Linked DNA regions of Homo sapiens: region 1 is linked to region 2. Evidence: fine-mapped expression QTL. A gene starts in region 2. The other region holds a variant in brackets. All regions are shown on one strand. Distances are between the middles of the regions.

Region 1 (11,866 bases), 200 kb after region 2:
TATAATTTTACAACACCTGAGCATTACTGTCTTTAAACTAAAAAATCTAATAAATCACCATCACAACAAAAGCCCCACAAGATAATTTGTTTCACCTTATAAAAAGCACTGACATTTAGTGTGTGGTAATTTGTTGCAGTAGCCACGGGAAACTAGTATTGTACTGAAGCCTCAACACCCACCTGAAGGGGCTGGGCATGGTGGCTCATGCCTGTAATCCCAGCACTTTGTGAGGCTCAGGTGGGTGGATCACTTGAGGTCAGAAATTCAAGACCAGCCTTCCAACATGGTGAAACCTCGTCTCTAAAAATTACAAAAATTAGCTGGGGGTGGTAACACATGCCTATAATCTCAGCTACATAGGAGGCTGAGACATGGGAACTGTTTGAACCCAGGGTGGGGCGGAGGTTGCAGTGAGCCAAGATTGTGCCACTGCACCCCAGCCTGGGTGATAGAGTGGGGCTCCATGTCGACAATAAGAAAACAAAACAAAACAAAACAACACAAAACCCCACCTGAAGGTTTCCAGTTCTTTCAATAGTCCCCCACCCAACCCCTTAGAAGCACACAGTCTTTTGCTGTGGGCCATGGAGAGGAAGAAGGAAGCACCTCCTCATGGCAGAGGCCTACCCAGGAGAAACTCAAGGGAAGGCACTGCCAGGCCGGTCCTTCTGCCAAGGCCATTTTCTTTTTTTTTTTTTTCTGATGGAGGGACACAGTTTCACTCCGTCTCCCAGACTGCAATGCAGTGGCACAATCTCAGCTCGCTTCGACCTCTGCCTCCCCAGTTCAAGCAATTCTCCTGCCTCAGCCTCCCGAGTAGCTGGGATTACAGGAGCACAGCATGTCTAGCTGATTTTTGTATTTGTAGCAGAGATGGGGTTTTGCCATGTTGCCCAGGCTGGACTCAACCTCCTCACCTCAAGTGATCCACCTATCTCAGCCTCCCAAACTGCTGAGGAGTGAGCCACCGCACCCAGCACTCACCAAGGCCTTTGATGGCAGGCTTTTTCCAGGTGACCACTCCTTGTCTGGTCTGGTTCTGCCCCACTCTCCCTCTCACCAAGTTGGAATCCGTCACTACTTTTCAGTAGAGGAGAGTGTGTACCCCAATCTCAGCTTGGTATGATTCAGATCTGCATTTAACTCATGACATCTGGCTGATCCTCAAGCCCTGGAGAAAAAAAAGGGTCTCTCTGTGAGTATGATACAGGACAGGTCTGTCCCCAGGACCCTGGGAGAGGGAAGCCCAATGGCCCACCAGGTTGGCAGGGCTGGGGAAGGGAAAGTGTTATGGTAGCCCCAAGACTAAAAAGAGGCAGCAGAGGGAGCAGGACATCACTCCCATTGAACTCATGCCGCTGCCTAAGTGAGGTGAGGGAGGAGTGCACCCGAGTGACATGAGGGGGCAGAGAGGCACGGTTCCAGGGTGGCTTTCACCCTTACTTCCTGCCATGTTACTCTGATCCCCTGCAGGTGAGCCTGCCCACTTTTGGCTTAGGGCTGCTGCTGGGGCCTGTACTCAAACGCAGCCCCCCCATGGCCATGGCTCCATGAGTGGGGCAGAGCAGGGAGGAGTCCTAGACAGAGGAGAGGCTGGGGCAGGAGGGAGTGGGCCTCAAACTCCAGGAGGGGGCCCTTCTCATAGGTCCTCTTTTCCGGCCTCTTCTTCCTTACCCCTGGGCTGATCACCTGGGGAAGAACTGAGGCAAGCTTTCTCATCCTCAGGTCTGAGGGGTTCAATTACTGGGCCCAAGTAGCTGGGATTACAGGCATGCACCACCACACCTGGCTAATTTTGCATTTTTAGTAGAGTCAGGGTTTCTCCATGTTGGTCAGGCTGGTCTGGAGCTCCTGACCTCAGCTGATCCACCCACCTCTGCCTTCCAAAGTGCTGGGATTACAGGTGCGAGCCACTGAGACTGGCCAAGCAATCCTTTTCTAAAAATGAGCTGGGCTCAGTGGCTCATGCCTATAATCCCAGCACTTTGGGAGGCCGAGGTGGGTGGATCACTTGAGGTCAGGAGTTTGAGACCAGCCCGGGCAACATGATGTAATCCCATCTCTACTAAAATAAATAAATAAATAAATAAATTAGCCAGGTGTGATGGTGGCCACCTGTAATCCCAGCATCTCAGGAGGCTGAGACAGGAGAATCACCTGAACCTGGGAGGCAGTGGTTGCAATGAGCCGAGATCATGCTACTGCACTCCAGCCTAAGTGACAACAGTGAGACTCCGTCACAAACAAAAACAAAAACAAAACCAGATTCCATCTCAAAATAAATAAATAAAACAAAAAATGTGGTATGGCAATGAAAATAATTACTGTGTTAAAGACAGTTTCGTAGAAAATAGAAGACCACTCAGATACAATAAGCTGTCTTTTTAGATGAGTATACTTGTTATTCTTATTTTACAGCTAAAGAAACTGGCTCAGAGAATGTTATTCAATTCGACCATGTTGCATTTCTGGACGGTGCGGCTGAGATCAGACTTCGTGTGTAACTCCACTAGCCTACCAGGGTGCCTCTCATAAAGGTAAGAAATGTAAATTTGGCCTAATCTACAAAGTTGCCAGGGCAGCACTGGGTCAATTCTACATACAGTACTTCTATATTCATCAAGGGAAACCTTAAGGGAAGGTGAAAATGCTTCTAGAAGGCAACTGGACACCAGTGCCCTTGCTTGTTGCCTTTGGGCTCTTCCTCTAAGGCCAATAGTGACCTGAAATTACCAACTAACTGTTTCAATCAAGTGGACAAAATGGTACCAAGGTAATCAACATCAGACAAATTCATTTGAGGACCTATCTATGTGCTTTGAAAGACAAAACTTTTTGTAAAGGATACTGTATTTCAGAAAAACAAAATCATATTAACAACTAATAACACTGTAAAATGCTGATGTGTTGAATGCTACTTTAGAAAAACATGTTCAAATCTAGGAAAAAAATTTGATAGAAAACTACATAATCAGCTGGGCGCCGTGGCTCACGCCTGTAATCCCAGCACTTTGGGAGGCTGAGGCGGGTGGATGACGAGGTCAGGAGTTCAAGACCAGCCTGACCAACACAGTGAAACCCCATCTCTACTAAAAATATAAAAAATTAGCCAGGCATGGTGGCGTGTGCCTGTAATTCCCGGCTACTCAGACAGGCAGGAGAATTGCTTGAACCCAGAAGGCAGAGGTTGCAGTGAGCAGGTGAGCCAAGATCGCACGACTGCATCCCATCCTATGTGACAGAACAAGACTCTGTCTCAAAAAAAAAAAAAAAAAGAAAAGAAAACTACGTATCAATTATCTAGCTAGCTAGCTATCTAGAGAAATGGTTTCATTCTATTGCTCAGGATGGAGAGCAGCAGGATGATTATAGCTCACTGCAGCCTTGAGCTCCTGGCCGCAAGTGATCCTCCTGCCTTAGCCTCCTAAGTAGCTGCGGCCACAGGTGAACAGTTACACATGGCTTTTTGTTTTGTTTTGTTTTGTTTTTTGTACAGAAAGGGTTTCACTACATTGCCTGGGCTGGTCTCAAACTTTAGAGTCTCGATGTGTCACCCAGGCTGGGGTGCTTGGTGTGATCTCGGCTCACGGCAACCTCCACTTCCCAGTTCAAGTGATTCTCCAGTATCAGCCTCCCGAGCACCTGGGACTACAGGCATGTGCCACCACACCCGGCTAATTTTTGTTATTTTTTGTAGAGACTGAGTTTCTCCATGTTGGCCAGGCTAGTCTCGAACTCCTGACCTCAGGTGATCCACCCACCTTGGCCTCCCACTGTGCTGAGATTACAGGCGTGAGCCACCATGCAGGGCCAAACACTTTCTTACTTTATTAAATAGCATAACCCAGGTGGGGCACGGTGGCTCATGCCTGTAATCCCTGCAAGTCTGAAGGCCAAAGTGAGAATATCAGTGAACCCAGGAGTTTGAAACCGGCCTGGGCAACATAGCAAGACCCCCATCTCTACAAAAAATACAAAAATTAGGCTAGGCGTGCACCACGCCCAGCTAATTTTTGTACCTTTTGTAGGGACGGGGTTTCATCCTGCTGCCCAGGCGGGTCTCGAACTCCCGAGCCCAAGCCATCCTCCCGCCTCGGCCTCCCAAAGTGCTGGGATAACTGGGCCCAACCAGCCTCATGTTTTCCTTAAGCAGTCCCTCCCTGTTGCACACTTGGGTAGTTTCCTTTTTTACTTTTTTAGACAGGGGTTACCTCAGTCTCGAAGGCTGGAGTGCTGTGGTGGGATCACAGCTCATTGGAGCCTTGAACCTTGGGAGTTCAAGTAGCTGGGAAGCTGAGGTGAGACTAAAGAGATGGGGTCGCGCCAGGTTAACAGGCTGCCCTTGGCCTGAAAGGATCCTCCGGCTTCGGCCGCCACCGGACACAGTTTCCTATTTTTGATGGACATACACACTGTGCTGGGTGGGAGTTTATCAACTACCTTTCTGCTGCCAGCAATACAGAGGACCTGGAGAGGAGGTGGCGGTTACCAGGCTCCACTGTCAGAAGACTGACCATCTCCAGGCACTATACCGCCCCTGTGACGTCGCGAAAGACCAGCTCATAGGACTTTTCGAATGGGCGCCTCTGAGACGTCAATGAAGGCGCGCCCCTATGGCGTCACAGAGGACCGACTCTCATACGCAGCCAATCGGAAGTGAAGGCGGGGCTTCTGGGTCTTCCTGGAGTGCGCATACATGGGCCAGCGGCCATAAGAATTACAATTTACCCCATCGTCCTCTGAGCTTTGGGGATGATGGATGAATAAATAGAGGCACAGACAGGTGATCTACCCAGAGCTGATGAGTAACAAGCCTGCTCTCAGGCCGTGTGACTCCTAGATTAGTACTCTTTTTTTTTTTGGAGAGAAAGTCTCACAATCTCGGCTCACTGCAACCTCCACCTCCTGGGTTCAACTGATTCTCCTGCCTCAGCCTCCCAAATAGCTGGGGCTACAGGTGCCTGCCATCACAGACATCTAATTTTTGTATTTTTATTGGAGATGGGGTTTCACTATGTTAGCCAGGCTGGTCTCAAACTCTTGACCTCAGGTGGTCCTCCTGCCTCAGCCTCCCAAGTGCTGGGATTACAGGTGTGAGCCACTGTGCTTGGCTGCTTTTTTTTTTTTTTTTTTTTTTTCAAAATAGAGATGTTTAGCCAGATGTGGTGGCACAAACCTGTTGTCCCTCCTACTAGGGAGGCTGAGGTGGGAGGATCACTTGAGCCTAGGAGGCAGAGACTGTAGTGAGTCAAGATCATACCAATGCATGTCAACCTGGATGACAGGGTGAGACCCTGTTTAAAAAATAGAAAAGATATGGGGTCTTGCTATGTTGCCTAGGCTGATCTTGAACTCAGCCTCAAGCAATCCTCCTGCCTCAGCCTCCCAAAGTGCTGGGAGTACCGGCATGAGCTGTTGCACCTACCCCTGGGAACTTTTTGCTGGGAGTGGTTTCTCTTATCTGTCCTGGCTTCAGGAGGGCAGGACCCCAAACCAAGGGTTTCTTCAAGTGGACAGCACTTTGGGAATGAAAGTGGGGTCAGTACTTGGTGTGCTGCAGAGGTGGCTATAGCCTACAGGGCCTGCTAGAGCCTAGGACAGCACTTCATGGGGAAAGCTTGGGCCTTACCTGCCCAGGATCTCGTTGGGCTAATAATTGTCATGGAAGTCCTGTGCGGAATGAGAGTCCGGCAGTGCCTCATCCCGGGTCATGCTCAGATCCTCAGCAAGGGAACTCTGGGTGGCTCTGAGAGTGGAACACAAAGAAGCTGTCAGCCCTCCTGACCCAGGGGTTGTTCTTGGGGCCTGGAACTGTTTCTTACTCACCCTTACATCTCCTGGCACCACACTGGCCTACAGTGAATGTTCCAAATAAACGTTTGTGAATTGAGGCCAGGCATGGTGCCTCACACCTATAATCCCAGCACTGTGGGAGGCTGAGGCAGACAGATCACTTGAGGCCAGGATTTTGAGCCCAGCCTGGCCAACATGGTGAAACCCTATCTCTACTAAAAATACAAAAATTAGCTGGACATGGTGGCTGGCACATGCTTGTAGTCCCAGCTGCTTCAGAGGCTGAGGCAGATTTGCTTGAACCTGGAAGGCAGAGGTTGCAGTGAGCAGAGATCGCGTCACTGCACTCCAACCTGGGAGACATGGCAAGACTCCAGCTCATAAAAAAAAAAAAAAA[G/AG]GCTTCTTTGTAGAGATCGGGGTCTTGCTCTGTTACCCAGGCTGCAGTGCAGTGCAACAATCATAGCTTACTGCCGCTACTGCTGCCTCAACCTCCTGGGCTCAAGCTATCCTCACACACTACCCTCCCGAGTAGCTGGGACTAAAGTATGCCCCAGGCTTGAGTGCAGTGGTGCAATCTCGGCTCTCTGCAACCTCCACCTCCCAGGTTCAAGCGATTCTCCTGCCTCAGTCTCCCAAGTAGCTGGAATTATAGGCGCCTGCAACCATGCCCAGCTAATTTTTTGTATTTTTAGTAAAGACAGGGTTTCGCCATGTTGGCCAGGCTGGTGTTGAACTCCTGACCTCAGGTGATCTGCCCACCTCAGTCTCCCAGGAAGAAGAAACTGTTGGTCTCATAAGTGTCCCTCAGCTGTACTGAAATGGAAATGGCTAGCTCATCTCAAGTGGCAGGGGAGCCCGGGCAGGGGCAGCTGGGGCACGGGGGTCAGGGACCGAGGCTGCTGTCAGCTAACTTCAAAAGCTGACACGGGAATCAGGAGGGTGCTCAAAGGATGTCAACCCGGGGTGTGGGCAGGCCCAGGATTACAGGTGTGAGCCACTGTGCTTGGCCACTTTTTTTTTTTTTTTAGTAGAGATGGTTAGCAAGATGTGGTGGCACACACCTGTTGTCCCTCCTACTAGGGAGGCTGAGGTGGGAAGATCACTTGAGCCTAGGAGGCAGAGAGTGTAGTGAGTCAAGATCATACCACTGCATGCTGACATGGATGACAGGGTGAGACCGTGTCTAAAAAATAAAAAAGATATGGGGTCTCACTATGTTGCCCAGGCTGATCTTGAACTCAGCCTCAAGCAACTTTATTATTATTATTGTTATTATTTTTAGAGACAAGGTCTCACGGTCTCACCCACACTGGAGTGCAATAGTGCAATCATAGCTCACTGCAGCCTCAAACTACTGGGCTCCAGTGATGCTCCTGCCTCAGCCTTCTGAGTGGCTGGGATTACAGGCATGCACCAGCACGCCTGGCTCATTCAGCCCAGGGACATCAAACCCCCATCCCCTCACCTGCAACCATCCCTGCCTGGGACCCCTTCTGTCAAAGCAGTGAGGCTACAGCTGGGAGCCTTGAGCCTGGGTGGTTCTAACTGGCTGTGTGGTGGGGCCACATTCCCTGGCTTGGGCTGTCATGTCAGGGCAGAATCACAGGGGTCACCCCACCGTGGAGCTTGGGACCCTCACTCACTGATGTTGAGGTGCCCTGAGACCTTGTGCAGGATGTCAACCTCCTTCAGTGTGGCTTCTTGCAGCTCCTGCACCTCCTCGGGGGTGAAGCTGCTTCCACTGGTGACGTCGATGACCTTCACAGCATGCTCCTGGCTCGTGGGCTTGTGGATGCAGCACCTGACCATACTGCTAATGCCCCTGGGAGTGCAAAGGACAGATGGCCTCAGGGGGCCCCTCACCCCACGGGGAGTCCCAGATTCAAGGCTGCAGCAGACATGTCCTGCCCTTATCTAGAGATTTACACTTTCCCTCAACTTCCTCTGAGCTTTTGGGGATTGTGGATGAATAAATACAGGCACAGATAGGTGATTTGCCCAGAGCTGATCAGTAGAAGCCTGCTCTCAGGCTGTGTGACTCCTAGTTTAGTCATTTTTGGAGAGAAAGTCTCACTCTGTTGCCGAGGCTGCAGTGCGGTGGCACGATCTCGGCTCATGCAACCTCCACCTCCTGTGTTCAAGTGATTCTCCTGCCTCAGCCTCCCGAGTAGCTGAGACTACAGGCGCCTGCCACCACACACATCTAATTTTTGTATTTTTACTGGAGACGGGGTTTTACCATGTTAGCCAGGCTAGTCTCAAACTCTCGACCTCAGGCGGTCCTCCCACCTCAGCCTCCGAAAGTGCTGGGATTACAGGTGTGAACCACTGTGCTTGGCCACTTTTTTTTTTAATAGAGATGGTTAGCAAGATGTGGTGACACACACCTGTTGTCCCTCCTACTAGGGAGGCTGAGGTGGGAGGATCACTTGAGCCTAGGAGGCCTGCAGACTGTAGTGAGTCAAGATCATACCACTGCACGCCAACCTGGATGACAAGGTGAGACCATGTCTAAAAAATAAAAAAGATATGGGGTCTTGCTGTGTTGCCCAGGCTGATCTTGAACTCAGCCTCAAGGAATACTCCCGCCTCAGCCTCCCAAAGTGCTGGGAGTACAGGCATGAGCCATTGTACCTGTCCATGGGAGCAGTTCTTGAGCACACTGAATTCTGCTTTTTCCTAGCTTTAATGAATGTCTAGTTCTTCCTTTTTAGGTGCAGTGTATGTCAGCATTGTTTCAGTAATAAATGCATTCTAGATCTTAGAAATAATATTGGTCACAGGTGCCAGGTGCAGTGGCTCACTCCTGTAATCCCAACACTTTGGAAGGCTGAGGCAGACAGATCATGAAGTCAGGAGTTCAAGACCAGCCTGGCCAATATGGTGAAACCCTGTCTCTACTAAACATACAAAAATTAGCCAGGTGTTGTGGCAGGTGCCTGTCATCCCAGCTACTCAGGAGGCTGAGCTAGGAGAATCGCTGGAACCTGGGAGGCAGAGATTGCAGTGAGCCAGGATCACACCATTGCACTCCAGCATGGGCAACAAGAGCAAAACTCCAGCTGAAGAAAAAAAACAAAAGAAATATCCCATTACTTTAAGGCAATGTAGATACAGCCAGAATTTCTACAGAAATCTGAACCACATTATAAAGCCAGAAAAACATACCAGCTAATATTATTTAATACATATAGCACTAAATGGAAGAGGTAATATTTTCTTTTAATTTTTTTTTTTTTTTGAGATGGAGCCTCACCCTATCACCCAGGATGGAATGCAGTGGCAGGATCTTGGCTCACTGCAACCTCGACCTGCCAGGTCCAAGCAATTCTCCCGTCTCAGCCTCCCAAGTAGCTGGGACTACAGGCACCAGCCACCATGCCCAACTAATATTTGTATTTTTGTAGAGACGGGGTTTCACCATATTGGTCAGGCTGGTCTTGAACTTCTGACCTCTGGTGATCCATCCACCTCAGCCTCCCAAAGTGCTGGGATTACAGGCATGAGCCACCATGCCTGGCCAGAAAAGGTAATATTTTCCAAACATATACATTAGTGTATAACCTTATTAGACTTATAAATATGATTTTTTTCAGTAACAGAAGAAGATTCTCCTGAACTGTATCATTTCAGCTAACATTTACTTAAAATTAAAATAATATAACAGCTATAAAAAGTCAAGAGGCACCCAGGCGCAGTGGCTCATGCCTGTAATCCAAACACTTTGGGAGGCCGAGGCAGGTGAATCACCTGAGGTCAGGAGTTTGAGACCAGCCTGGCCAACATGGTAAAACCCCATCTCTACTAAAAATACAAAAATTAGCCACGCATGGTGGTAATCACTTGTAGTCCCAGCCACTAGGGAGGCTGTGATGGGAGGATCACTTGAACCTGAGTGGTGAAGGTTGCAGTGAGCTATGATTGCACCACTGCACTCCAGCCTGGGTGACAGAGCAAGACTCTGTTTCAATGAAAAAAATGAAACAGTCAAGAGCATGGAGAGTATTAAATTCAGACATAACCAATGGTCTATCATCAGAATAGCTCCATTTTTTTGCTATCATTATGTGTTAAGGTCAATTTGCTAAACACGAATATTTGTACTAAAGTTTTAAGTGTACCATATAATACATTAATGCTGACTTAGGTTTAACATCCTTTGCTGTACAATATACTTGAATATAATACTTATATATCACAACAAAAGTATCTTTCCCTAAGGCAATTACCATTAATACTGCTTTAAAGTTATACAATGTGGGCTGAGGGGTGGCTCACACCTGTAATCCCAGCACTTTGGGAGTCCGAGGCAGGCAGATCACAATGTCAAGAGATTAAGACCATCCTGGCCAACATGGTGAAACCCCGTCTCTACTGAAGTACAAAAATTACCTGGGCGTGGGACGCACCCCTGTAGTCCCAGCAACTTGGGAGGCTGAGGCAGGAGAATCTCTTGAATCTGGGAGGCGGACGTTGTGGTGAGCTGAGATTGCAACTCCAGCCTGAACAAGTGCAAAACTTTGTCTCAAAAAAAATATGAAAATGTGAAGATTGTTTTTATAATTTTCAACACCTGCACATTACTGTCTTTAAACTAATCTAACAAATCACCATCACAACAAAAGCCCCACAAGATAATCTGTTTCACCTTATAAAAAGCACTGACAGTTACTGTGTGGTAATTTGTTGCAGTAGCCACGGAAACTAGTATTGTACTGAAGCCTCAACACCCACTTGAAGGGGCTGGGCATGGTGGTCATGCCCGTAATCCCAGCACTTTGTGAGGCCCAGGTGGGTGGATCACTTGAGGTCAGGAATTGGAGACCAGCCTTGCCAACATGGTAAAACCCCGTCTCTAAAAAAAATACAAAAATTAGCTGGGGGTGGTGGCACATGCCTATAATCTCAGCTACTCAGGAGGCTGAGACATGGGAACTGTTTGAACCCAGGGTGGGGCGGAGTTTGCAGTGAGCCAAGATTGTGCCACTGCACCCCAGCCTAGGTGACAGAGTGAGGCTCTATCTCAACAACAACAACAAAAACTCCACCTGGTTCTGCCCCACTCTCCCTCTCACGAAGTTGGAATCCCTCACTACTTTTCAGTAGAGGAGAGTGTGTACCCCAATCTCAGCTTGGTATGATTCAGATCTGCATTTAACTCATGAAACCTGGATGATCCTCAAGCCCTGGAAAAAAAAAAGGGTCTCTCTGTGAGTATGATACAGGACAGGTCTGTCCCCAGGACCCTGGGAGAGGGAAGCCCAATGGCCCACCAGGTTGGCAGGGCTGGGGAAGGGAAAGTGTTATGGTAGCCCAAAACTAAAAAGAGGCAGCAGAGGGAGCAGGACATCACTCCCATTGAACTCATGATGCTGCTGCCTGAGTAAGGTGAGGGAGGAGTGCACACGAGTGATGTGATGGGGCAGAGAGGCACGGTTCCAGGGCGGCTTTCACCCTTACTTCCTGCCATGTTACTCTGATCCCCTGCAGGTGAGCCTGCCCACTTTTGGCTTAGGGCTGCTGCTGGGGCCTGTACTCAAATGCAGCCCCCCATTGCCATGGCTACAGGAGTGGGGCAGAGCAGGGAGTGGGACAGAGGAGAGGCTGGGGCAGGAGGGAGTGGGCCTCAAACTCCAGGAGGGGGCCCTTCTCATGGGTCCTCTTTTCCAGCCTCTTCTTCCTTACCCCTGGGCTGATCACCTGGGGAAGAACTGAGGCAAGCTTTCTCATCCTCAGGTCTCAGGGGTTCAATTACCAGGCCCAAGTAGCTGGGATTACAGGCATGCACCACCACACCTGGCTAATTTTGCATTTTTAGTAGAGACAGGGTTTCTCCATGTTGGTCAGGCTGGTCTCGAGCTCCTGACCTCAGCTGATCCACCCACCTCGGCTTCCCAAAGTGCTGGGATTACAGGCGTGAGCCACCACGCCGGGCCGAACACGTTCTTATTCTATTAAATAGCATAACCCAGGCAGGGCACAGTGGCTCACGCCTGTAATCCCTACAAGTCTAAAGGCCAAGGTGAGAATATCAGTAACCCAGCAGTTTGAGACCGCCCTGGGCAACACA
Region 2 (11,866 bases):
CAGATGGGGTTTCACCATGTCAGTCAGGCTGGTCTCAAACTCCTGACCTCGTGATCTGCCTCCCTCGGCCTCCCAAAGTGCTGGAATTACAGGTGTGAGCCACTGCACCCAGCCCACCCTACATTTTTTTCAGAGCATTTTCACAAGAAAACTTGTCATTATGAGTTTAATATTGTCCAAAAGTAGAAGAAGAGAGAACATTTCCCAATATATTTTAGGAAGCTAGTATTACTCTCCAATAGAATCAGGGAAAGACAGTACCAAAAAAACCCTGTCTAACAGTATGCCTCATGAAACTCGATGTGGAAATCCCCAACAAAACATTATTCAACAGAACCACATGCTTCACCCATGGGTGAATTTCTTCTAGTAAGGGAGGAGACCACCCCTCATATTGTCTCATGCCCAATTTCTGCCTCCAAAGAAGAAGTAAAAACTAAAAGGCAGAAATGAAATCCACAAGCAGACAGCCCGGCACCACACCCTGGGCCTGGTAGTTTAAGTTCGACCCCTGACCTAATCGGTTATGTTATCTATAGATCACAGACATTGTCATTGTATAGAAAGCACTGTGAAAATCCCTGTCCTGTTTTGTTGTGATCTAATTACCAGTGCATGCAGCCCCCAGTCACGTACCCCCTGCTTGCTCAATCAATCACAACTCTTTTAAGCAGACCCCCTTAGAGTTGTGAGCCCTTAAAAGGGACAGGAATTGCTCACTCGGGGAGCTCGGCTCTTGAGACAGGAGTCTTGCCGATGCTCCCAGCCAAATAAACCACTTCCTTCTTTAACTTGGTGTCTGAGGGGTTTTGTCTGTGGCTTGTCCTGCTACACTAGGAATCATAAAGATGTGGGGAAATCAAAGGAAATCTTTTATTAAGAATTAAAGTTGTAGACTCCTATCTTGAGTTGATTACTTTGAATTTTTGTCCCAAAATACATACAGGACCAGGTCTAATTCTATGATCTTTATCACATGCAGCCAGATGCTGAAGAGAAATAGATACAACAGCGATATGGGAGTTATCCTCTCTAAAGCCCAACTGAAAAAACCCAGAGTCAGAAATTTTACAAACAGAAAAACAACATACTTATTCTGAACCAGGGAAGGAGAGGTAATTTGAACATTTAAATTTAAATTGCTATGAGAATACTGACTTGTTAGAAACTGAAGGAGTGAGCAGTGCTTCTAAACTCCACGCTTTTCCATCAGAATACAGAGATAGACAACCTCAAAGTGCAGTTTCTTCACAATTGTCTTCATCCAGTCATAACATTAATTTCTCTATGAATCAAATCATAAAATAAATATTAAACTCATGACATATTCTCCGACTAAGAGGCAGCAAGATAAACTGAACAGTTAGTTATCAGTGTAATAAATTATGTACAAGAATCTTATCACTGCATTTTTTAACAATGATGAAACTAGAAATAATCTAAGTTTCTATCAAAGAATAAACAGTGAAACAAGTCTTGTATACCCATTCTTTGGAATATATTTAAGACATTAAAAATAGAGGCCAGGTGCTGTGGCTCACGCCTGTAATCTCAACACTATGGGAGGCCGAGACGAGAGGATCACTTGACGTCAAGAGTTCGAGATAGCCTGACCAACATGGTGAAACCCTGTCTCTACTAAAAATACAAAAATTAGCCAGGCCTGGTGGCACATGCCTGTAATCCCAGCTACTTGGGAGGCTGAGGCAGGAGAATCACTTGAATCCAGGAGGTGGAGGTTGCAGTGAGCCGAAATCGTGCTATTGCACTCCAGCCTGGGTGACAGAGCAAGATTCCATCTCAAAAAAAAAATAGAATCTCATGCACTGATATGGAATAGTGTAAATGATATATTGCTTGTGAAATAGCAAAATAAAACACAATATAGTATGATATAATGTGTTCAAAAACTGTACAGGTATGTATCTCCTTTTTTTAAAAAAATTTTTTGGAGGCAGGGTCTCACTCTGTCGCCCAGATGGCAGTGCAATGGCATAATCACAACTCACCACAGCCTCAACTTCCTGAGCTCAACGGATTATCCCCACTCAGCTTCCCAAAGTGTTGGGATTACAGGCGAGAGCCACTGCAACTGGCCAACTTTATATGTATTTATAAATTTATAGAAAACATCCAGAAAAATAAACACCAAGCTATAATAATTCCTTCTAAGAAGAGAGTGAGTTTGGAACAAAGAGGAAGACATGGGAGATTTTCACTACATAAAGATCTCTATGATCTGATATTCTTAAAACAGTATGCATTTCTTTTATAATTAGAAAAAGGAAAAATGTAAGCGTTGTTACCATTTGGTAGGAGGGCAATAGTTTTATTTTCATCAGTATTTGTATTGCATGTTAGTGCACAGCACAAATCTAGAAGAGAAAGCCCAGAGGAATAATTAGAAGAAAAAAAATCACACCTAAAAAAGTGAGAGGTAGTTATCTTTACATAACAACAAGCGTTCCAGGTGAGGGCTTTACATAACAAGTGTTCCAGGTAAGGTACCGCTGCTCCAGCTCCCTCAAATCACCTATGCTCTGCCAAGGGGAAGGTGGAGGACAGGGAAGGCCAAGTCCCAGTGAGTGCTCTCCCCCAAAAAGGCCTGTTTCTGCAAATTTCCTGTTATTAAGAAAATGGAGTCCTAATGAGATGTGGACCCCTTTGGGATGCTGGCAGAGAAACAAAGTAGAATATGCCATGATCATGCCCTAGAGGAAGACTTCTAGGTTGAGACTTGAAATTCATCAAAAGCTTGTGTGAAGTAAATAAAGCTACTCTACCTCTCTGAGTGTCAGTTTCCACACCTATAAAATGGGGATTGCATGCCAACATCATCGAGTTGTTGCCAGAGTTAAATTCACAAAGATATTTAAAAGTGACTGTTACTGCTAGGGTCCACATTTTTTTTTTATTTAAAAAAAAAACAGCATCGGACTTCAAAATACACAAAAGTAACAATGTCCATGTGTCCAAAGACGAGATGATCAGCTTTCTAATAAGCCTGAAGCGCATAAGAACGAGATCTATCCCTAACTAGAACTCTTCACAGCTCCACTTAAGAGGACACAAGCAGGGCTCCAAGAAGCTAAGTGCACGGCCAGTGTAGAGTGACTGGTGTAGTGAGGGTAGAATCTCTTAAGACCCTCTGAAATGCAGTTACATAACAGGGTCCCAGGACACTGGAGCAAACCAGGCAGCTGAGCAGTTACTACCAGGAATGGCAGAGCAGAGGAGGGTCGGAGCCATAAATCTCAGCAGAATACACCAAACTGCAAAGAGCTCCTGGCTCTGTGAACAGCAGCTGTGGCTACATCAGGACCAATCTTCTAAGACAGCTGCTGGGGACAGCTGAGATCACGTGTTTTGGCAGCAACACACCCAACAGCAGTGCCTCTTGAACACAGACCACAAAATCCTCTCCATTTATCTTTAAGGTGATGGATGATGGATGCCCTCACGTTACAACATCCCCACCAACACTTGCGGACAAGTGTATTTAGAAACTTCCACCTAAAGACGGAACACTCAGGAGTGGAATGAGAATATTGGGGGATGGGGGAGAAACGCAGGTACTTGACCCCACAGACTCTATTGAAAACAAGAGAAGAACCGCTGCGCTGTGGCTCTTCCTCATCTCACCACATCCATAGACACCACATGGTTCTTGTTCCTTTATTGACAAAGGTGCTGATGAGCCCGTGTGCAATTAATCCTGAAGGAGTAAATTCTTCACAAAGTACAATAACAGTGTCTAATATCCATGACCAGGGTTTTTAGGGTTTTTTTTTATGGTAATCCACATTCAGGAATCACAAATGAAGCCTGTTGGAACGTGCGATACGAACAAGGTCTTATTTTCATGTAGATGAACACCTTGGTTTTTACGGATTAGACATAAAAAGCATAAAAGCTGGCGCCATTCCAGAATCAAAGGGACTGTCCCTGGGGACATATGGAAATTAGGGACATCAATTACACGAAACTAGAAGTGATCCCAGAAGTTCCCATTGTCTAGACAGAAAAGGTCAACAGATCAGCCCGAGAGAGTAAAGGTACCTCCGGGAGTGCCGGGGGGTGATGAGCTTTCCATTCAAAGCAAAGATGTGAAGCCTGAGGAGTTACAAAGACTCCCCAAATGGTCCACACCTTGAAAGTCGCTCCCACAAAGCTGGAGCACCACCTGTTCCTGAGGATCAGGCTGCCATCTGTGTTTGAGACACTGGCCAGTCAGACATTTGTTGAGATGAGGCCAATGATATCACGTGTAAAATACCTAAACCATCCTAATCTTTAGGTAGCTATTTGGGGGACTTTCTACCAAATGGGTTGGTGAAAAATGGCGCACCAGAGACACACGCCTGGGAACTGAAATTTTCTCCTCTGCTTTTAGCATCTCCTGGGTAAGCCAATAATGGCCCTCCCTGCCCCCTCAATATCCACATCCGCGAAAAAGTCGCTGGTGAGGGTGACATTTTCACGAAGCCACAGCCCATGTCACCCCGTGCAAAGCTCTGAACTTGTGCACTGGCGGGCCAGGCGGCGGATTTCTCCCCACAGCGGCGGAACTGCGCTCTGGCTGGAGAGAAAAGAGGGCAGCGGCACAATGGACAGCGCCTGGACCTCAGGCCAGTTCCCACAGCAGCTTAGGAAAGCCGGTGGCTCCCTGGGCTGCAGGAGGCGCGATGGCCAGGAAAGACCCTGGGTACAGGTGGGAGAGGGAACCCAGCTGAGCAGCGGGAAGTGGGGTGAGGACTACACCCGTCCCAGTTTGACAAGGGCGAGGTGTACATCGCGGCGTCACGCCCTCCTCACTGCCCAGCCCGGACCTGCCCCTCCTGTCCCTCTCCGGACTCACTTTCTTTGGCAAGGAAGTGCACGCGATCAGTAGCCAGCATCGTTGTGGAAGCGGCGAGGTCCACATTGCCGTGTCCAACCCTCCTGGGCTGCCCGCCTCCTCGCATGTCGCCTGCTGGGATTCCAGTCCAGCCGCCTTGCCACCAACGGGCGGGGGACCGTTAAGAGCTACTGTTTCCAGCCTGCCTAGCCAGGCTCTCACCGCCCCGCTCCTCCCACGAGAACTGCGCCCCGTCCCCGAGCCCGGGTCATGCTGGGATTGTAGTCCCGAAGTGCCTGAAACAACGGGCGGGAGCAGTGAAGAGACTACAACTCCCAGCATGCACAGCGAGGTCAACACAGCCCGGCTTTCCTCTTCAGGACTGTGCGCCGCCCCATGTTCATGCTGGCTGTGATTGTAATCCGGTCGCCCTGCAATTAAAAAACTGGAAGCTAATCAAAGACGACAACTCCCAGTATGCCAGGTGTAGCTCCCACCCACTAATCCACACCTCCCCGCGTCCAGAGCAGTACTGCCATGTCAAGGGGAGCCTGGCTGTTCCCAAACCTCTCCTGCCTGCCAGGCGACAGTGGGACCAGGGCGGTTGGTCCTACCTTGTAATTATGTCACTACCTCTTCCTAAGATGCTGGCTTCATGCTTCGTCAGTGCCTGAAGTTTGATTTCTCACGGAGCGGCAGGGGACCGGGGGCTGCTCACAAACCTGTCAGGGTTGCCATAGTAACGCTACTCTTCCTGTAGCTGGACTCGCCCCACCCTTTCTCGCACGCTTCTTCCCTTGGCCCGGCCTCTCCCCTCAGCACCGCCCCTTCTCCCCCGCCTCTTTTATTGGCACCGCCCCTCATCCTCGCTCCGCCCCTGACACGCCCCTTCGGACAAGCGGCAGTGTAGTCCCTGCGTAGGAATGGGGTTAATGGCCAGATGTCTGACACTTCTCGGACTTTTTGTGATCCCACGCGGGAAGCTCCCTCCTGAGTGTCTGAAATTGTCAGTTCACTGCCAGAAATGGATATAAGCGATCCCTGATAACTTGGCACTTGCCTTTTCAAAGCCGCCGTTTCCTCCATCCTCTGGGTTGTCACAAATCCTCCTTTGCAGCACCGCAGGAGTGCCCCTTGGACCCCGAGCTGGCTGCAAGGCCCACACCTGGGTCAGGCCTCGCACAGGGACGCTCCTGCCACTCTAATAAAGAGTAGAAAACGTCACACTGAAAGGCCTGACCCTGCTGCATCCAGTCAGGAAACAGCCACAGGGAAGGGAACCCCTAAGCCACTTTGGGAGCCACATCCACCACTTCTCTGCCCCTGACCCAGGCTGGTTCCTAGCCCTTAGGGTCCTACTGCGGACCTCCCGGCCATAATTAACGCAGGTGCAGGACCAGAGAGCCCCTTGGTCCCTCCCAACACATGAGGGAACTTTGTGTGGTGAGGTCAGGTACAGTGTCTACGTTTCTGCTGTGAATAGGGCTTTCTTGGAAACAATTTTAATTTCCCTTTTTAAATATCCCTTTGGAACCACATTTAATAATTTGCTGGTGGAACTTAACAGTGATAAATCTTTGAATCCATTTTTCTTTTCTTTTTCTGACACGCAGTCTTGCTTTGTAGCCCAGGCTGGAATGCTGTGACTCGATCTGGGCTCACTGCAACCTCCACTTCCCGGGTTCAAGCGATTCTCCTGCCTCAGCCTCCCGAGTAGATGAAATTACAGACAACCGCCACCACGCCCGGCTAATTTTTGCATTTTTTAGTAGAGATTGGGTTTCACCATGTGGGCCAGGCTGGTCTCGAACTCCTGAACTCAAGTGATCTGCCCGCCTTGGCCACCCAAAATGCTGGGATTGCAGGCGTGAGCCACTGCGCCCGGCCTGAATCCATTTTAACACTGAGTTTTTCAGATTAACTCGAAGTACCCCACAACTACACGCTAATGAAACTAGAGGAGGCACAGCCTCAGCTCCGTGCAGGATGGATGCACAAGAGCAGAATCTCCATGGGACGCCTTTCTGGAGCATCAGTATTACTGCAGGATTTGGAAGCAACAAGTTCAAATAATTTTCAACGTTAACACACTGGAAATTTAAGAGAAGTCTGGAAACTCATCTACCTTTAAAAACTGTCAGTCATCTGTGCCTAAGTCAGACTTTCTCCAAGAAAAAAAAAAAAAGAAACTCTAAGGAGACCCTATTTTTTATTCTTCTAAGTAGTTAAAATTAGAAATCACAGCAAGTCAACAGGAAGCTCTCCTCTGCCAGTCTCCTAAATCACAATATGGCCTTGGTAGGGTTTTATTTGTATTTTTTGGAGGGGTTTGTTGACATGTTGGGTATAAAACTTGGGCGGGGGGGGGTGGTTGACCAATTTTTGGAAGTTTTCAGCCATTAGTTGGTGATTAACTTTGTACCTCATTTAATTTTTCTGTTCCCTGTCCAACTTGGACTCAATCACTCTACAGGTCTCTAAGACTTCATTTTCTTAAAGCTTTTTCACTCTTTTATTCAGAATGGACAACTTCTATTGCTCTGTCTTCTGTTTCTAATCTTTGAATAAGCTCAAAAGTATTTTTCAAATTTCCTTATCTTCCTATTATTTCGTAATTTCCATGTCTTTGCTGAGGTTCCACATCTCTTCATTGTTAGAATATTTTCCTTTACCCCCATGAACAGATTTATAATAGCTGCCTTTAAACATCCTGAATTACAACATCTTAAATATCTTAGGATCACTCCTACTGCCTGCTTTTTAAATTGCGTATGGATTCTATTTTTGTGTTTCTTCACACGTATCATGAATTTTAAAGTTGTGTACTAAAACTGTAAAGAATCATTATATAGACTCTCATTTCTGTTGTGTACCTTTAACAGCGGTGTTATTTTTTACAAAAGGTGTTAATTGGGCTGGATTCAAACCTCAATACCTGTCTACCCTGCAGTGGGCACAGCTGAAAACCTCATTCAGTTCTTACTGACACATAGGTCATATCTATATTATGCAGCTGTGTTTCTATAACAATAGGTAATATATTATGCAGGTGTCATCATTATAATCTGTGTTAATTCAACAAGCTAATCCGGTATTACTGAAAGCCAGGACCTCAGTTTTTTTTTGTTTTTTGTTTTCTGTTTTTTGTTTTTACTGTATAATAGTTTTATTTTTCTCATTTTACTATTTTTACATTTTATGCACAAATATTTTTTATCTGCGTAAAAATAGAAAATAACTTTTATGTAAAATTACAAAAAAAATTAAAACCACAAAGAAATACATAATTGTTATTATGACAGTATAAGTGTCATTGTCGTTATTTAAAGAGTAAAAATGTATGCAAAAGTCCTCCTCCCAATTACAAAAGATTAAGAATTTTGTTTTTCCTGGCAGCAAGTGAAATATTGAAGTATCAATATTTTTACACCCTTTAGATCTGAAGACATTAAGTTAGTCACAGATTTGTTTTGCAATTATGAATTTTAAAACATTTTTGTGCTATTTCAAGGATACACTGGTTCTTTCTTAAAGGCAGTAGCATAAAATGAATATGGAAAACAGCAGACCTCACAAAAATATTTGGTGGTACAGTTCTTTTTGTATCATACTTGAGTATCACCATTAATCAGGGGAGAAAACAACTAAACAGTTTTTCCTAATTAAATGACATAGACTGATACAAAAATAAATGTGATCAGTCAATTTACCTGAAGATCAACCACACATAGCAATTCTGCCTAATTTGTTTTTCTGATGCCAACACAAATATTTAGACTTTAGGCTAGCGAGATATGTATGAAAGTTGGCTCAATAAAAACTTCACATGGAAAACAAATTTTAAAACAAAAATGAACATTTCTTTTACTTAAATTCTTGTACTTCTAAGGTACAAATGATGACCAATAATTTTATCTTTCTTCCTTTGAATATACTGTAAATTCTATGAAAAATTCATTTATAAAAACAAAGCAAAGAATGAATAGAATAAATTTTATTTTCTTTCACAATGTTATATTTTAATAGAAGAAAAAAACTACCTGGCTTTCTGATAACTGTAACCTAAGTAAAACAAATATTTTACATATAATTTGAGGCAAAGTAATGAGTTTCTTGAATCAACTGGAGAAATTAGTCATATTACTTTACCTATGTCATGCATAAATGATGGCAAGAAGAAAAAAAAAGCATCTGATCATGTAGGAGAACTGTCTCTGTTCAAATTATGAGAAATAAAATGAAAATTGCTAAAGGGAGAAAATGAATAAAATATGATTTTAAAAAAACCATATGGGAATTGCATAGATGAGAAAAAAGTTTTCATTCTAGGAATCTAAAAGTAATGTTTCTAGCTTTAAAAACATACACACACATATATAATTGAGACATGTCTATCATCTTGGCTAAAATTTTAATATATGTCTCCCCAAAAGCATTTTAAATATGAAAGCCAAGATTCTTAAGCTCTTGATGATACACCAGAAGGGTATACTTTATTATTTTTTTAAAACTACAAGCAACTTGTCAACTCCCTAGGCCGTAAGAGGATGGTGCAAAACCTTTCTTGCTGTCTATTTGTTACCTGACGCTAGAGCTTCTGTTTATTATTTCATATTGTTATTTTACTCAGATATTCTTACAACCACAGTGCCCAAATTGTACTAATAATCTGTCCATATATTCTCTTTCAAAAAAGTAAAAATGGAAATACAAATCTTACTCTGCCCAGATATCAACTGCAGAAAGAGCTTAATATAATAATATAAATGAATTGAGAACATGTTGTAGTAAAATTATGCGTTAAGATTACCAGAGAAAGAGATCAAAGATTCCTCCTCTCTCTCTTCTCTTCCTTGTCCTTAAGATACCTGCCTCTTAGGATTCATTCCAAACCACTACCAGAATTGCTAACAATGCCATCTTGCCTGTATTATCATGTCTTTTTCTCCTAGTTAAGTCAAAAGCATTAACTGAGCTCTTAAGAAGCTTTTTAAGGGGACATATTTAAAGAAAACAATGAAGGAAAAGGTGCATAAATATTTGAGAATCAACTTTCTCAAATCTGTAAGAGGATTAATAGCTATCTGCCAGTCTCATGTAATAATTCGTGCTTAATACCTTAAAACAAACAACAAAAAGAGAAAAGAAAGAAAAAGACATTTCTAGCCATTTTTGTTTAGTGTTCGCTTATGTAAGGAATGTCATATATGCAGGAATTACTTAATTTGAATCTTAAAATGAGTTGTTTAATAATTTTTCTTCTGTATATCTTCATGCCTTCATATATGTTTATAAAATGATCAACTGAATATGTATATAGATATATGAATACACATATATAATATGGAAAAGGAAAAAAAATAAGTGGAAAAGTATTGTCTTAAAGAGAAGACTGCCTATAACAGAGGTCGAATTTTCCTTTTAAAACTATTTGCAAGTAATTTACTAATGCCTTGAAAGGTAAAGTACTGCTGACTGATTTAAAGTCTTCATTTTATCAGAAACAAAGGAATATAAGCTGCTTTGCATAATAAACTGGCACTACAGGGTAATTTTTTTAAAAAGGAAGCCATAACAAACCAAACCAAACCTTTATTTTTGGGTTGAGGTATACCTTTTCAGTTTTTTAAATCTCTGACAGGAAAAACAGAGATCATTTTATAATTTTTGTAACAGCTGGTTTATTAGAATTAAATGCCTCTCTCAAAATAATTTAAATTCTTGGTCTGACATGAATAATCTATACAGAAAATCCTTAAAATTGGCTTGAGTTAATAAGCCAGATTTAAACCTGGATCTCCTCCTTCAGCACTGCTCTTTTGCCAGCCAACTTCTTACTGTCCTTTGCTTGCAAATATATAAATAACCTGATACTCTTAGTTTAGTAATTTATTATTATAAATTTATTTGGTATGAACATTTTAGCTCTGCTTGATTAGATGAAACAGGCACACATGCTTTATCTGAGAAATTCCATTTTCTGGTTCTATGTAAAGCAACATCTAAAGCAGCAGAGAGGGGAAACAGTTATATTTTCAAATATAGTTAAGCCAGACTGTTTCCTAGAGATACTTCATTTATTTTTTATTTTCAGATACTACTGGCTATTTTTGGTAGGGCTACACATTAATACTGACCAGTTTAGCTTTCCTGACTGTTGACAAACTATTCCACAATGAACCTGCCTTCACACCGCAGACATTGTGGAGATCCTTTAACACACACATATTCTAAAATATATGCTCAAAATAAAAAGATCCAAATTCACAAGAGTATGAAATATTTATAAAAAAATCATGCATCAGACTGTACAGCCTAGAAATAAAAGAAGATTCAAATTCAGTAATAAAGGTAAGAGCTATACTTGCTCTAAACATTTTAAGAAAGACTTTGGAGTCCCCGAATGTCCTGGGGCTCAATTATCCTTTTCCGTTTGCAGAGAAGCAGTAGCCAGAGCTACTGCTGTGACTGGCTGGGCAATTCCATGGAGCTGCATCTTTGCAAGTTTCTTCTGTTCACATTCTGTGACCAAACGGTTCAACTCCGCTGCACTGTATCCAGTAAGAGTCTTCAAGTCACAGACAAACTTGTACACAAATCTCTTGCCTTGAACTTTACAAATCATGTCCCCATCATAATAATATCTTAATGCACGACTGAGTTTCTCATAGTTCATCGTAGGCTTATTTTTACGCTGTCCCCATTTTTGTGCAACCAGTTCAGGCTGATTTAGCTTAAATTCACCTTTATCACCAACCCAAGAAATACAGTCTCGAGCGTCCTTATCAGTAAGAAGTTCTAGCAAAAACTGTCATAGTTGGATTTGGCCATTGTTTCCTGTTCTGTTCCCAGGTGAGCTTCTATCTTCTGAAATCCTCGGCGCTCTTTGTACTTTGGCTGCCTTCACACTACTATTTATAACTTTAATGGTAGTAGGTGTAGCAGATTGCACTGATGCTGGAATAATTTGCACAGGTTGATCAATTGTAACTATTTCATTCATCTGTTGTTCTTGACTTGCCAATACAT

Direction of the effects. Alleles are on the strand shown, and positions count from the first base shown. SD is a standard deviation of normalised expression in the study named.
In carriers of allele G in region 1, the expression in CD4 T cells of the gene that starts at base 5,999 in region 2 tends to be higher than with AG alone (large effect, 1.5 SD a copy in BLUEPRINT).

What was found. PIP is the estimated chance that this variant, and not a neighbour inherited with it, causes the effect.
Region 1: its variant is fine-mapped to the expression of LINC02848 in CD4 T cells (BLUEPRINT, PIP 0.95).

The regions. Positions count from the first base shown.
Region 1 is chr7:63,695,144-63,707,009 of GRCh38, reverse strand. LOC105375313 (a long non-coding RNA gene) reads right to left here and starts at 7,804. Exons shown (of 3, transcript XR_927567.2): 1 at 7,440-7,804; 2 at 5,633-5,749. The variant G/AG (reference allele first, on the strand shown) is at 6,194.
Region 2 is chr7:63,894,031-63,905,896 of GRCh38, reverse strand. It overlaps LINC02848 (long intergenic non-protein coding RNA 2848), which reads right to left and starts at 5,999. Exons shown (of 7, transcript NR_186803.1): 1 at 5,898-5,999; 2 at 5,452-5,559; 3 at 4,859-5,268; 4 at 2,307-2,375; 5 at 1,159-1,285. It also overlaps the pseudogene GABPAP.